Linked DNA regions of Homo sapiens. The protein of the gene in region 3 interacts with the protein of the main gene of each other region in a biochemical or structural test. Each region holds a gene or a part of one and is shown on either strand. Other genes may lie near its edges.

The links.
Region 1: the proteins of NR5A1 (region 3) and ZNF653 form a complex in vitro, tested with the Homo sapiens proteins (one study listed by BioGRID).
Region 2: the proteins of NR5A1 (region 3) and TRERF1 form a complex in vitro, tested with the Homo sapiens proteins (one study listed by BioGRID).

What each region holds. Positions count from the first base shown.
Region 1 is NC_000019.10:11,482,929-11,488,879, forward strand, and holds the end of ZNF653 (zinc finger protein 653), read right to left. Parts: intron 4,976-5,951; coding exon 4,364-4,975; intron 4,231-4,363; coding exon 4,059-4,230; intron 3,953-4,058; coding exon 3,841-3,952; intron 2,843-3,840; coding exon 2,728-2,842; intron 1,214-2,727; coding exon 1,114-1,213; intron 932-1,113; coding exon 754-931; 3' UTR 501-753; downstream 1-500. UniProt on the Homo sapiens protein: Transcriptional repressor. May repress NR5A1, PPARG, NR1H3, NR4A2, ESR1 and NR3C1 transcriptional activity.
Region 2 is NC_000006.12:42,441,927-42,448,966, forward strand, and holds part of TRERF1 (transcriptional-regulating factor 1), read right to left. Parts: intron 1-7,040.
Region 3 is NC_000009.12:124,480,701-124,483,404, forward strand, and holds the end of NR5A1 (steroidogenic factor 1), read right to left. Parts: intron 2,306-2,704; coding exon 2,058-2,305; 3' UTR 536-2,057; downstream 1-535. UniProt on the Homo sapiens protein: Transcriptional activator. Essential for sexual differentiation and formation of the primary steroidogenic tissues. Binds to the Ad4 site found in the promoter region of steroidogenic P450 genes such as CYP11A, CYP11B and CYP21B.

The sequences.
Region 1 (5,951 bases), on a different chromosome or scaffold from region 3:
CCTCGGGGTTTTGGCACTGGTTGTTCCTCTGGCCTGAGAATTTCCTCCCCCAGCTTTCTTCTGGGATAGATCTTTGTCATTCTGGTCTATGCGCAAATGCCACCTCCTCAGAGGCCCTCCCTGACCACCGACCTAAACAGCATCCCCGGAAAACAACGCATCACTCTCTCTTTTGCATGGCGCTTGTCGCTAGCTGCAAATGTTTCTCATTTTAGGGGTTTACTGAACACCTCCCCATCTCATCCCGGAGCTCACTGAGGGTGGGAGATGGGTGCCCCATAAAACAGGAGGAAGTGGAAATTAGGGTCCTGAGTTCCGGGAGATGCCCAGAGACCCCAGACCCCCAAGCCTCACCCCATCCTGTGGGAGCAGGGGCTGTGCGAGGCTGCTGGGCCCAGGGGCATCCCTCGTTCCCTGCCTCGCTTAGGAAGGGATCAAGTAGGCTGGAGACAGAGAGGGGCCTGGCACCCCAAATCATTCAGGCCTAGGGGAAGGGCATCTCCTTTCTCGCTCTTTAATCTCACTCTGCTCTCTTGACACAGTTCCAGCAATGCAGCCCCAGGCACCAGCTCCGAGAAGGATGCGGTGGGGCGGGGTGGGGAACCTGCCCAGGGGGCCCAGCTCTGGGGCGGGGCGGGGGCGCCTCCTTCCGGCCCGCGGTCCGGGCGGCCCTCGCAGCTGTCCAGGCCCCGGCAAGCCCGGGCGTGGTGTCCGAGCGGACGAATAAATAGGGGCGGTCAGTGGTCAGGTGGGTCAGGTGGGCTTGTGATCCGGGTGGCTTTTGAGCGTGTGGAACTTGACGCTGTCCAGCTTCTCGAAGCGCTTCCCGCAGCGATCGCACGTGAAGTTGTACTGCACCTCCGCAGTGTGCTTCTTCATGTGCCAGTTGAGCGACGCGCGCTGCCGGCACTGGTAGCCACAGATCTCGCACCTGCCGGGAGCCCGTGGCGGGACGGGGCGGGGTCAGAGTGGGCGGGGCGGGGCGGGGCCCTACAAGGCCGAGCGCAGGTGGAACCGGGCCCAGACACTGCGTTGGGGCGAAGCCGCCCCTGGGACCTGCTGGGATCCCCTCCCACCCAATCCTCTAGCGGCACGGGGCGGCCTGTCACTCACTGCAGGGGGGTCTCGCCGGTGTGGGTGCGCCGATGTACCTCCAGGTGGTTCTTCCTCTTGAAGGACTTGCCGCAGGTCTCGCAGGTGAATTCACGGACACCTGGGGGCGGTGGGGACCGAGGCTGAGGACGGTGGGCTATGGGGTGTCTCTGATGTGCTGCAGACTCTGATGCTAGAAGGAGCATCAGGCTGTCTCCTTGGATCTCCCAGGACTGCAGGTGCAGGCCGACCAAACCCTACGTCCTTCCCGTGCATTTGCCCACAGACGCCATCAAGCAGAACTGAGATCGAACTTGGGTCCCTGAGAGGCATAGGGTGCACACTACCAAGCCAACATGGGTCTGAATTTGTCTTGTGTGTGTGTATATATATATTTTGCGACGGAGTTTCGCTCTTGTTGCCCAGGCTGGAGTGCAATGGCCCGATCTCGGCTTACCGCAACCACAACCTTGGTCTCGCGGGTTCAAGCGATTCTTCTGCCTCAGCCTCCTGAGTAGCTGGGATTACAGGCATGTGCCACCAACCATGCCCAGCTAATTTTGTATTTTTAGTAGAGACGGGGTTTCTCTATGTTGGTCAGGCTGGTCTCGAACTCCTGACCTCAGGTGATCTGCCCACCTCAGCCTCCCAAAGGGCTGGGATTACCACCACGCCCGGCCTTGTCCCTGATATTTGAACTTTGGGTGATTTCGCAAAATGAAAACAAAAACAAAAACAAAAAAAACTTCTGCCCAGCACGGTGGCTCACACCTATAATCCCAGCACTTAGGGAGGCCAAGGTGGGCAGATCGCCTGAGATCAGGAGTTGGAGACAAGCCTGGCTAACATGGCGAAACCCTGTCCCTACTAAAAAAAAAAAATTAGCTGGCATGGTGGTGAGCGCCTGTAATCCCAGATACTTGGGAGGCTGGGGCAGAAGAATTGCTTGAACCCGGGAGGCAGAGGCTGCAGTGAGCCAAGATCGGATTCCAGCCCGGGCAACAGAGTGAGACTCTGTTGCAAAAAATAACCACACACACATTAAAAAAAACCAAAAAAAACAAAAAAAACCCCCAAACTTCTGACCTCCTGTGATATCAGAAGCTCTGGCCCTCAGGGCATGCCCTATCGCTGGACACAGGCACCATGGCTCTCCACTATGTCCCCAGCCCATGCAGAAGACCTGCATCTCTGCCACAAGTGGAAACAGAAGCCCAGTCCCAAGCCAGCTGCTCCTCTTTGCCCAGCTCTCCTTCCTGCTGCTGCTTGGGTGGGCACTGGTCTAGCCTGTGGCCCCAGGTGCTGCTATAGGTTCCAATCTGGAAGAGCAGTGGCGGTGTCAGCTGCTCCCTAAGTCTCGCATGAGACCTGCTCTTGGGATCATGGGGCATGGGGTCGCGGGGATAGGAGGGAAGATGGCCAGCCCCACCCAATTCCTGTGATTGATTGGTAATAGTTCCTGTCGCTGTGGCTCACATAGCTACAGCTTACTGAGGACAGGGAGGAGGCTCCTAGGGGTGTAGTCCTGTGCCCGGAGACCCAGCACTGGGCTTTGACCCGCCAGCTCTGGCCCAGGCTCCCAGGCCCATGTCCCTGTGTCCCCCGCTCATGCTGCCAGCTGGCCCAGGGCCTGACCTGAATGGATGATCATGTGCCGCCGCAGGTGGTTGGATAAATAGAACTTCTTGCCACAGCCAGGATGAGGGCACACTTTGGTCTTTCCTTTCCGATGCACAAGATTGACGTGGTTCTGGAGACGAGACAGGCAGAAGTGGGTCCCATAGGCCCACAGAAGGGGCTCTGGGAGGTGGGGAGAGATGAGGGCAGCTGGAAGGCAGGCTGGGGCTGGCCTCCCCAGGAGGAGGGAAGAGGGGTACCCTTGCCCAGCTCAGAGATTCCCAGGGGCACAACTGGGGTCAAAGGGTAGCTTTATTTTTTTTATTTTTTGAGATGGAGTCTTGCTCTGTCGCCCAGGCTGGAGTGCAGTGGTGTTCTCTCAGCTCACTGCAAGCTCCACCCCCCCGGGTTCACACCATTCTCCTGCCACAGCCTCCTGAGTAGCTGGGAGTACAGGCGCCCGCCACCACGCCCGGCTGCTATTATTTTTTTCTGTATTTTTTAGTACAGACAGGGTTTCACCGTGTTAACCAGGATGGTCTCGATCTCCTGACCTCGTGATCCGCCCACCTCGGCCTCCCAAAGTGCTGGGATTACAGGTGTGAGCCACCGCACCTGGCCAAGGGCAGCTTTATTGAACACCTACTATATGCCAGGCTCTGGACTGGGGTATCTGTCAACTCTGTGAAGGGCCCAGCTGTTAGCCCAATTAATCGATGGGGAAACTGAGGTTCAAGGCTCTGTGGTTTGGCCAAGGTCTCACAGGTGGCCAGTGGCAGGACTGGGACTGGATTTGAGGGCTATCAGCCTCTGTGGGCCTGGAACAGGCAGCCCCAATTGATTCATTCCTTTGTTCCTTCACTCTTTAACTTACTAGAACAACCCTGGCTCCAGCTTGCAGGCCTGGCTTGCACTAAGTGCTTAATACATGCTCAATCAATGCATGGCATGGCACAAAGGCCTGTTGTTGCATCCTCCCATGCCAGGTCCTGGGGTGTGACAAGTCCCTGTCTTTGCCTTCAGGGACACCTCGTCAAATTTCAAGGGGCAAACTAGAGGTAGGACATCCTGGTGGTGCCATGGCCTGGGCCTTGTGGGCCTGGCCCAGGCTGCTCCGGGTGGCGGCCTCACCTGGAAGCTGCTGAGGGCCACGTAGACTTGGCTGCAGCCCTCGTATGGGCAGTGGAACATCTCGAGCAGGCCGTCAGCATCCATCACCCGCGACCGCTTGCTCCGCCGCCTCCTGGAGGGGAAGGGGCCATGACATCGGGGCTCCCGCACCAGGCAGGCTGGGGGCCTGCGGGCCGCTTCTAGCCCTCGCCCTCACCCTTGCCCGCCCCGGCACCCACTTCTCAGGCTCCTTGGGGATTTCATAGATGATGGCTGACATGTCGCTGCCGTCCAGCTCCTCCCCGTCCGCCTCTGCCTCAGGCTCTGCGCTCTCAGGCACCGTTGTTGCCAGCTCCGGGGCTACTGGCTCCTCCTTCTCCTCCTTCTTTAGCAAGCACAGGTCCTCCTTCTCTACAGGGTGGACACAGGGTGGTGTCCGCAGGGGACGAAGGCTGCCGAGGTGCCCACTTCGAGGGCCATTCCTCGCCCGGCCCCTCCCAGGCCCAACCACCCCTGGCCAGAGGCCACGACAGGTCCCCCAGACCTTTCTTGGTCTCGATGCCTGCTACTGCGGTGGCGTCCATGGTGCTAGGCTGGCTACCCTCGGGCTCTGTCTGGGTGTAGGCTGCCACACCCTCCATCATGGCACAGGGCACCTCCTCGCCCAGTCCACTGCCGGGGACACCGCTGCCTGCTGCCATGTTGAGGTGAATGCCCTCGGCCGTGAGAGCGTCGTAACCAGGGCCCGCAATGATGATCACCTGTGAGCCGGGCACCATGCCTGGCATGGGGCAGCTGGCCACCACCTCACCCAGGGCCTCCTGGGGCACGTTCTCAAAGAGGGCGCTGGGGCCCGCACCCACTTGCACAGGCACCGGCACGCACACCACTGTCTCCAGGGCTTCAGGCCCATTGCCTGCTGGGTTGGAGCACAGCGGGGTACCCTGCTCGGCCAGGCTTTCCACGTGGTGGACGTCAAAGGGAATGTGCACGCCCTCCTGAGTGATGAGCCCGCTGCTGCCCACCGGGCTGGTGGGCGTCGCTGCCGCTGCCGCTGCCGCAGCCTTGACCGGCTGGCCCTCAGGAGACTCCTCAGAGTCAGAGGCAGAGCCAGAGCTGGATGAGTCAGAGCTGCCAGCCACCAGCCCATTGCCCACTGTGGGGACAGAAGAAAGGGAGTGGTTATGATAGCTGCAGCCACTGGTATTTGTTTATTTAGTTTTTATTTTATTTTATTTATTTATTTATTTATTTTTTTGAGACAGAGTCTCACTCTGTCACCCAGGCTGGAGTGCAGTGGTGCGATCTCAGCTCACTGCAACCTTGGCATCCCCGGTTCCAGTGATTCTCCTGCCTCAGGCTCCCGAGTAGCTGGGACTACAGGTGTGCGCCACCACACCTGGCTTTTTTTTTTTTTCCTGAGATGGAGTCTCACTCTGTCACCCAGGCTGGAGTGCAGTGGCGCGATCTCTGCTCACTACAAGCTCTGCCTCCCAGGTTCATGCCATTCTCCCACCTCAGCCTCCCGAGTAGCTGGGACTACAGGCATGTGCCGCCATGCCCGGCTAATGTTTTGTATTTTTAATAGAGATAGGGGTTCACCAGGATGGTCTCGATCTCCTGACCTCGTGATCCACCCACCTCTGCCTCCCAAAGTGCTGGGATTACAGGTGTGAGCCACCGCGCCTGGCCCACACCCGGCTAATTTTTGTATTTTTAGTAGAGACGGGGTTTCATCATGTTGGCCAGGCTGGTCTCAAACTCCTGACCTCAAGTCATCTGCCCGCCTCAGCCTCCCAAAGTGTTAGAATGACAGTCATGAGCCACCGTGCCTGGCTGAATTTTTCTTTTCTTTTCTTTTTTTTTTTGAGATGGAGTCTCGCTCTGTCACACAGGCTGGAGTGCAGTGGCGCAATATTGGCTCACTGCAAGCTCCGCTTCCCAGGTTCACACCATTCTCCTGCCTCAGCCTCCCGAGTAGCTGGGACTACAGGCAACCGCCACCACGCCCAGCTAATTTTTGTATTTTTAGTAGAGATGGAGTTTCACTGTGTTAGCCAGGATGGTCTCGATCTCCTGACCTTATGATCCGCCCACCTCGGCCTCCGAAAGTGCTGGGATTACAGGCATGA
Region 2 (7,040 bases), on a different chromosome or scaffold from region 3:
CACAGAGCCATCAAGAAAGACTTAAGGAATGAGCGTTTGCGAGGTTTGAATTCCATACTGCCTTCTAAAGAAGCTCAGACTCTTCAAAAGGAAAGAGGCCCCTAAATGTCCTTACTTACTGTGGCTCCCCCTGAAAACCCCTCAGCTCGCATGTATTCACCCAATTAACAAAGAAAAGCGAACTCAAGCCCCAATACTTCAGAATCAGCCTCATTACTGGTGTCCTTCAGTTGAATTTAAGGGAGCTTGGTATCTCCTATTGTAATGACAACAGAGGGAACTCAAACGACACTCCTATTAAAACTCCTTGGGCATCAACTCCAGCTTTTTTTCTTTTCCTTTAAAAAAAAAAAATCTTTCAAAGGAGTTAGATTGGGGGCAGTTTCCCAAAGACCAAGGGAGGCCCTAGGAGCAGCCTCTGTAATGACAAAGACCCCTAGAGGCCCTCAGGAAGGATTCTTTCTGAGGGAGCAAGCTGTCCAGGGCCCTGTTATCTCCAAAGTCAGAGCCCAGGGGCTAGAGGCCACACCATCTAGAAATGACCACTAGACCACCCAGGTCCCTCTGCTGAGGGGCCCCACAGAAGGGACAGAGCTGACAGTAGGACACAGATGGCAAATAGCTGCCCAAATAGCTGCCCAATTTGTTAAAGTCAAGTCTTGGCCTTCATTATAAGGCAGCCTTAAAGCTTTGTGCTCCAGAATAATGGAGGCAAACAATTTAAGTTTTCAAAAATGTCATGCCAAAAACATGCTTAAATCATCTGAGTATTTCCAACTAAGCTCATTGGAGTTGTAAGCCCAAAACACCCAGATGATCTTCCTGGTTTCCACGATCTTTTACATATATTCTGTACCACATTCTTTTATTTAATGCTGTATAGTATTATCTATTTCAGAGTGCACAAAATTTGGAAACCATTCAAATTGTGGCATTAAATCAGGGCTTTGGATGCTGGCTGAACAGGTGACTCTTAGTTGATCATTTATTTATATTTTCCAATTTTACTTCTCGAGCCTCAGTTTCCTCAGCTATAAAATGAGGATATCTACCTTCTCTGGTTGTTGCAGAACACAAATAAGATATGTCAAAGAGGCTTTGGAACTACAAAATGCGAGTTATTTCAGTGATGGCCTCCATTTCCTCTCTCTCTGATTTTTCGTTGATTTCTTCCTTCTCTCTATGAAACCAAATTGCTATCAGTTCCACTGTTTTTCAAAATCAACGACACATATTTATTATACAAATACAGAAGAAGCCCCATTATCCACAGGTGTGGCAAAATCTCAATAATTGCTAAATCTAGGTGATGAGTACAAGAGAGTTCATTATACTAGCCTCTCTGCTTTTGTGTATGTTTAAAGTTTTTTCATAATAAAGATCATTTTTAAATAAATAAATAAAGCTTCACCTTCTTAGGCAGAGGCCAGGAGCCCGATTAGTGAAAAGCACTGGATATCTTTTTAAAATGAGAATTGACTTTCCAGCATACACAGTAAGACTAAGGGCTAATGACTGCTTTTAGGTAGATTCAGCTTCATAGCACAATCCTTATTTGCAAAACAAACACTGAATGCAAATGAAGACGGCTAAGACTGTAGAACCTCAGTCGGGTTTCTTGGGGTAGGTTCAAGGTTCTCCTGCACCCAGTTCACAGGATTCTTTGTGGAGCAAACCAAGTTTATTTGGCCCTTTGGGTGGGCAGGTCCCAGATTCTGAATATGGAATCAGAATTTGAACCTGTATTGACTGGCACTGCCCAGCCAGCATTTCTGAGGCCAGCCTTCCGACAAGAAGAGCAGTTTTGCTAAAGGATCACAGAGAACTTGAAAACCCCAAATAGAAGGCAGCTACACGTAGGGAACAACAGTGGGAGTGGACAAGGGAAATGTTTCGCTGGCTGTCAGATTTTATATCTGAAAAGAAGACCTGGCTGAAGATCAAGTCGCCTCACTGCTGCCTCTGTTCTATGCCTCTTACCGTTGACATCGCACTTTCCATACATGATCTGATTCCCTCTCACAACTTGAAGAGGAGAGGTGAAGATGGTACCAGCCCTCTTTTTACAGATGTAGAGAGGCTCGGAGGTCGACTAGTCCAGAGCCTTGGTGTAGAGCTGGATCTCAATCCAGCTCTGACTCTCTCCTTTTCCACCCACCTCCCATGCAGACCCCATGGCTGGGAACCACCGAGGCTGGTAGTCCATGGGATATTTTTTGTGAAAGACAACCTAAACAACAGGCAGCCTTTGCTTTTTTTTTTTTTTTGCTTTTTTTTCTTTTGAGCTTCTTGCTCAAAACCTATGACAGTACCCACCAACTCTGAACAGGGCTGAAAATCACAGAAGTCTTTTTCTAATCATAGTTTTCAAATAAATTTAATGTGAGGCCCAAATTACTTTAACTGAAGACTCTTTTCTCCAAGCTAAAGAATTCACTCTTTCCTCTGTGCCGCTCAGTAACGCAGTCAAATGTTCAGAAAAATGCAGTACCATTTCTGATGCAGTCTTAACCCTTGAGTCTCTGGCTGGTATCAAGTCCTAAGCCCAAACTCCTTCCCAGGGACAGGGCAGCCTCAGCCTGGGGAGGCAGAGCATCTCGGTCCTCCACAGAGTCCCCTGCCTGCCCACTCCTTAGCATCTGCCCCCTTATCAGTTTTTCTTCCCTGTCATGATGGAGCAAGTTCCTGAAGTATCCCCCACCCCCTTACAAAGGCCAGATCTTCCCCTCAGACCTTCTCAAGGGCTTTTTGCTCAACTGACCCAACTCGTTTCTCTTGATCAGTCACTCCCTCTCCACTGATCTTTCCCATCAGCACACAAATTACCAACACTTCCAAAAAACCTCTTTCCCTTGTGCACATCCTTCCAGCTCCCACTCCGTTTCTCTGCTCCTCGCCTTTCATCATCAAATTTTGCCAAAGAGTTGACTACACGGGCTGTCCGCAGCTCCTCCCTCACGATCCCCTCCCAACTCTCTCCAGTCGTGGTCCCAGCCAACCCTTCACTCCACTGAAACTGTTCTTCACAAGTCACAGACAGATTCCATTTTGCCAAATTCAGGGCCTGGTGCAGTAGGTCACATCTGTAATCCAGCACTTGGGGAGGCCAAGGCAGGTGGATCACCTGAGGTCAGGAGTTTGAGACCAGCCTGGCCAACATGGTGAAACCCCGTCTCTACTAAAAATATAAAAACCAGCCAGGCGTGGTGACACATGCCTGTAGTCCCAGCTACTCGGGAGGCTAAGGCAAGAGAATCACTTGAACATGGGAGGCAGAGGTTGCATGAGCTGAGATCACGCCACTGCACTCCAGCCTGGACAACAGAGCAAGACTCCATCTCAAAAAAAAAAAAAACAAAAAACGATGAAACAAATCCAATGGTGATTTTTCTGGCCTTATCAGCCTCAGGAAACACTACACACACAGACACACACACACACACACACACACACACACACACACAGCACACACCTCCTTCACACTGCCTGTTCTTCTCTCTCCACGGGCTCCTTAGGGCATTCTGTCCACTCTCCTGCATTTAAATGTTCTCTCCATGCCGATGGCTCCCACATTTTTATCTCGTGCTAGGTGGTAGATCAGATTACCCTACTTGACATCTCCACTTTGAGTCTAATAGGCACCTCAAACTTAGTGGTGCCCCAACTAAAATATCTTGATTCTGCCCGCCTCCCTCTCCCAATCTTTCTTCATCTCAGGAAACAGCACCACCATCTACTCAACTGCACAAGCCAGAAACCTCGGAGTTCTAGATGCTTCTCCCCACCCCACAGCAGCCCTGCCCATTCTACTCCTAATGAGCATCTCACACCCACCCACTCCTCTCCATGCACCTCCTTCGCCTCCTCCTCCACCTGCCTCTTTACTGTGCTCTGCCTTTCTCTGCTCTCTTCTCCACCAATGCAATCTTCTTAAAACGTGAATTAGGGGCTGTCGCTTCCCACTCCAAACTTTCTTTTGTTTGTTTGTTTTGTTGTTGTTGTTTTTGAGATGAAGTCTCGCTCTGTCACCCAGGCTGGAGTGCAGTGGCACGATCTCCACTCACTGCAACCTTCACCTCCTGGGCTCAAGTGATTCTCCTGCCTCAGCCTCCCAAGTAGCTGGGATCACAGGCATCCGCCACCACGCAGCCTAATTTTTGTATTTTTAGTAAAGACAGTGTTTCACCATTTTGGCCAGGCTGGTCTGGAACTCCTGACCTCAGGCTATCCACCCGCTTCGGCCTCCCGAAGTGCTAGGATTACAGGTGTGAGCCACCGTGCCCAGTCCCACTCCAAACTTTCAATGGCTTCCCACTACACTTCAAATGAAATGTAAACCTTTTCAAAGCCCAGAGAGTCCTGCACAATCATCTCATGCTGCCCTCCCTCCTTCATCCTTGACCACCTGTGCCTCTTTGAGTTCTCCAAAACCAAAGTCCTTCTGCACAGGCTCTCCTCTGCTTCATGTGCTGTCTCCCCCAACCCCCAAACCTCAGAGAGGCCTTTCCAGGCTACTCTAATGAAATCCATCCAAGTCACTGGACTTGTGGTTTCATCAGAGCACTGATCACAATTGGCAAGCTGTATTTCTTTACATGTCTGCCTCTGGACTGTAAGTGAAGTGGTAAGGGTAGGGGTATGGGTAGAGGGAGATGATTATGTCTCTTTCAATTATCAATATATTTCTGGAGCTTTAACACAGTGCCTGGCAAATAGTAAGTCCTCAATAAGAAGCTGCCGCATGTATGAAAGAAACCAGGGCTGCTTATGGCATTAAAAAAACCCTCGTTCCGCAGCCGGGTGTGGTGCCTCACGCCTGTCATCCCAGCACTTTGGGAGGCCAAGGTGGGCGGATCACTTGAGGCTAGGAGTTCAAGACCAGCCTGGTCAACATGGTGAAACCCTGTCTCTACTAAAATAAAATTAAAAGTAGCTGGGCATGGTGGTGCACGCCTGTAATCCCAGCTACCTGGGAGGCTGGGGCAGGAGGATCACTTGGACCCGAGAGGCAGAGGCTGCAGTGAGCTGAGATTGAGCCACAGCACTCCAGCCTGAGTGAGAGAGCAAGATGCTGTCTCAAAGAAACAAACAAACAAACAAAACCCTCGTTCTTTGAGCTCAGAGTTATCACTGTTATTTAGGCACACGGGTTCTTTGTCCCCTTCCTGCTCTATCAAACATATAAAAAGAAATGTTTATGTTGCTAAACCAAACCCCAACAGCTCAGCATATGCTACCCCATGCCAGCTCATCGTCTTCCATGATGAAAGACCAAGAATCATCTGTTTCTTCAGTAAACCAAATTACTACAAGCAGCTACTCTGAGAACTTAAAATTCTTAGAAAATATCACAGAGGCTTTTTGTTGTGTGTTTTCTTTAGCCCAGAAGAAAAGATTTATTAAGAGAGCCCTGGGGTCAAACTCATGTTACTGAGACTATATTATTCCTTAAAAATGCCCACAGCACCCTTGTGGCAACGCACGCCAGTAACTGGAATCCAGCTGTTCTTGTCCTCCTCTCTCCACAAAAGAAATCAACTATTCGTTAGTTCTCCTTTATTTTACTGGTTTCCCTTCAACATGCAAATTCAGAAATATCATTAATCCACAAGATCCCAGATGATTTTAATCCTTCCTCCTCCCTCAGCCACACAGTTTTATGAGGTCGGAAATAAAATGAGCTGAATTCAACCGCCTTTAGAGCAGGACCATGAGCACCATTTATACCGCCTGGGGTATAAGCCACTTGCCTAGATCCTTACTTTTCTTTTTTGTTGTTGTTGTTTTTGTTTTTTTGAGACAGAGTCTCGCTCTGTCACCCAGGCTGGAGTGCAATGGCATGATCTCGGCTCACTGCAACCTCTGCCTCCCAGGTTCAAGCACTTCTCATGCCTCATCCTCCCAAGTAACTGGGATTACAGACCCCCACCATCATGCCCAGCTAATTTTTGTATTTTTGTAGAGACGGGGTTTCACCATGTTGGCCAGGCTGGTCTTGAACTCCTGACCTCAGGTGATCCGCCTGCCTCGGCCTCCCAAAGTGCTGGGATTACAGGCATGAGCCACCGCGCCCAGCCCTAAATCCTTACTTTTCATGGCAATGTCCAAAGTCAATAAAAACATCAAGAGCTTCTCCCAAAAATGCCCATAGTGAAATACAGAGAATCCTGGTGATAAAAATGATACTATATCATTATTATGAACCTTATCACAAATATTCAGCCAAATCCCAATTACCCACAGAAAGCAGGCAAAGCCACACTGGGCTTTCTGGTCTCCAGTTTCTCCCCAAAGCTATCTCCTCCTGCTGCCTGGGAATAAGAGCTTGGTTAACCTTAGACTTGACCAAGGATTAGACAAGTTAACCAACTGGCTGGAGAAGAAACTTCTAAGATGAACAGAAATTATTTTTGGTACCTAGGATATGTACATGCTGCACTCTCTGTTAGTGCATAGAATTGAGAATTTTTTGTCCAAGACACTGGCAGACATTTATTCATAAGTATTTCCTTGTGTTTGATGGTCAAGATCACCAGGCCACTCAAGAGACCTTTCTGGAATACCAAGGATCAAATCCACTTTCTCCATGAGAAGACAAAAACAGAAGTTAATCAGCTCACCCAAGTCCATGAAGCAATTGGCCGTTGGCTCAGGAAGAGACTGTCAAGACCTCTGGAGACCTCGCTTACAAGACACAGAATTTCAGAGCCGGAAGGGAACTCACGGATCAAACCACGCACTTTTAAGATAAAAAATCCAAAGCCCAGAAATGGCTAGAAATTGGTACCTTCCCCACCTTTCTTTCCAGTGATGTTTCCCCTAGCCTTGAGCATCAAACTACTTTAAGTTCTTTGTCACTTTACCAATACTGTAAACTTAAGCCAACTATTGAACACAAGACAATTTTAACACTTCCTGGCTAATCAGCTTCACAGAGAATCCTTACATTTGTCAAAAAAATAACGCTTTCGGTTATTATAACCAACCCACCCATTAAAGAAGGAGAAAAAGAAAATCATAAACAAGCTTTATTTTTTGTG
Region 3 (2,704 bases):
ATGGCGGCGGTGCTCACTGCCGCCACCACGTGGGGCTGGGGAGGAACCTGTGAGGGACGTGGTGGGGCAGACAGGAAAGGGCAGGGCTCTGAGGGGTCTGGTCTCCCAGGTCTGTGGCTCATGGGCCCTTGGCAAGTGCCTTCCCCTCCTAGAGTATAACCCCTGCCTCACAGGGCTGCTGCGGGGACAGTGAGATGAGGGTGGCACACAGTAGGTGCCCCTTAAATGGCTGCTCCTTCTGCCCCAAGATGGGGGCTGAGCTGGCATGGCCAGCATGCAACAGGCAGAGAGGCTACAGCATCCCCCTGGCCTCCCAGTGCCTCAGGGTCCCAGGGATGAGGTGGGTCCCAAACCCCAACAGTGCCTGGTGTCCCCCCACCCGGCCCCGCCACCCACCTGCCTCCTCAGAGTTTTGAAGCAAAGAGGGTCTGCGTGCCACCTCCATCCAAGTCAGAGCGCTGCCCCAACCTAGACCACCCGGAATCCACCCGGGCCGTTCTGCTTTGGCCCCAGAACGTACACAGGCAAAGGTAGCTGGAAACTAATTGCGAAATTTATTCCAGGGCTGTGGGGGCTGGGGTGATCCTTAAGGGCACTTCTCGTTTCAGGGCTGTGGGTCTCCGGCCTTGGCAGGGGCACATGTTTCAGGGGGCGGGGAGGGGAGGTACTGAGACAGGGTGGCGGGAGGCGGGAGGCAGGAGGCAGGGGTGCCCAGTCTCCTCCAACTGGGCAGGCTCAGCACAAGCTGCAACAGTAACATGAAAGCGGGACGGACAGCAGGCACCCCGCCGGGGACAGGAGACAGCCGAGGCCTCTCCCTGGTGCTTCACCCTGCAGAGTGTCCTTCATGACCTAGGACAGGGGGTCAGGGAGCTGAGGGCCAGCTTCATGGGTTTGCAGCAAGGGACCCAACGGGTTGGAGCCACAGAGAGGGGATCAACAGCGCTATCCCTGATCTACAGGCCCGTGCCCCCTCCCAAGTTCACTTGCATTCCCACCCACAGAGACCTGAAGCCCCCAACAGGGCATCCTGCTGTTCACCTAGTGGGTGGAGGGCGGGCAACAGCGCTTCTCTGGATTGGGGCTGGGGCTCAGAAGTAATGACCCAGCACCACCCCAAGGGTACTTAGTAGGCGAGTGTCCGGGGAGAAACCGTCAGCTGTACTTAGTGGCAATCCCCAAGCCCCAGCTTCAGTCCTCAAATCTGTCCCCTTCCCTCCATCACACACACATTTCAAGGAGTGTCTAGAAGCTTAAAAACAAAAAGCGGGGAGAAAAACCTCTTGACTACAACCTTGCAGATAAATACCAGCCTGGGAGGGCCACCTCTGGGTGGGGCTAGGATGTCGATTGTACCAAACGTTCTCCTTGGGTGGGAGAGGGAATCAGTGATGCCTGGAGCAAAGTTTTTTCCCGATGATGTATCAATGCCCCCTCTTGCAGAGGTCAGGTGGGGTAGAAGGGCTAGGGAGAAGGTCTTTTTGTCCTAACCAGTCTCCTAGTGTCCTCTAGGGCCCAATAGCCCCTCTCAATTTAGCAAACTCGGTTATCCTTAGTTTACAAAACAGAGGCTCTCCCTCCTGGTCTCTATGGGGGGAACACTGGAGACCCTCTCTCCTCCCCTAGTTGATACCTGCTCAACTTCTCCCTGTCTGTTTCCAGGAGAGGAGGAAGGGATGACCTCTGATCCAAGGGACGTCGAGGCCCACCAGGGAATCCCGAACCTCCTCCCCGGACCTGCAGGCTTCAGACTCCAGGAGAGAGAGCTGGGAGCAGGGAGGGGGCGGGGCGGGTGGTTAACAGCCACCTCCTTGGGGCACTCCAAGCAGCAGGCAAGTGCCAGTGGCCACTCCACCTCCGCCAGGCCCTGCCCAGCCTCACCCACCTTCCCAAACACACAGTGTCAGAACTCAGGGGCAGCGGCCTCTGGGACGGGGCTGGGGCTCCTCGGTGGGCATCAGAAAATGAACCATGCGGAGCCAGCGGTGTGGCTGCGGCCCCGCCCAGGCCCCGCCCCCAGTCCCGCCCCCAGTCCCGGCCCCGCCCCCGGCCCAGGCTCAAGTCTGCTTGGCTTGCAGCATTTCGATGAGCAGGTTGTTGCGGGGCATCTCGTTGCCCAGGTGCTTGTGGTACAGGTACTCCTTGGCCTGCATGCTCAGGGCCCGCACCTCCACCAGGCACAGCAGCAGCTGCTGGAATTTGTCCCCGCAGTGCGGGTAGTGGCACAGGGTGTAGTCAAGCAGGGCGGCGTTGGCCTTCTCCTGAGCGTCTTTCACCAGGATGTGGTTATTCAGGAACTTCAAATCTGCAAAGGGAGGTTCTCGGTCACCATCGCGTCACCATCCATGCCCATCAGGGCTGGGCCAACACCGTCACCAGCATCACCAATACCACCTTCCCTATGACCATCAAAGACATGGGCATTGCTGCCACCAACCATGCAACATGGTCTCCCCGTTGGCACCGTGTCGCCATCACCATTGCTGTCACCCTGGTTGACAAACACCACCATCGTCACCAATACCCACATGCCTGTGTTTTTCATGAACATGGCCACCGCCACCATCAACCACCCAACCACAGTCACCTGTCACCATCATCACTGCCATCATCATCACCACAGTGGTCACAATGAACAAGAATTATGAAGCCCATCACCAGCCTCCCTCGGGGAGGATCCCTGGGCAGTTATTGAACCTCTCGG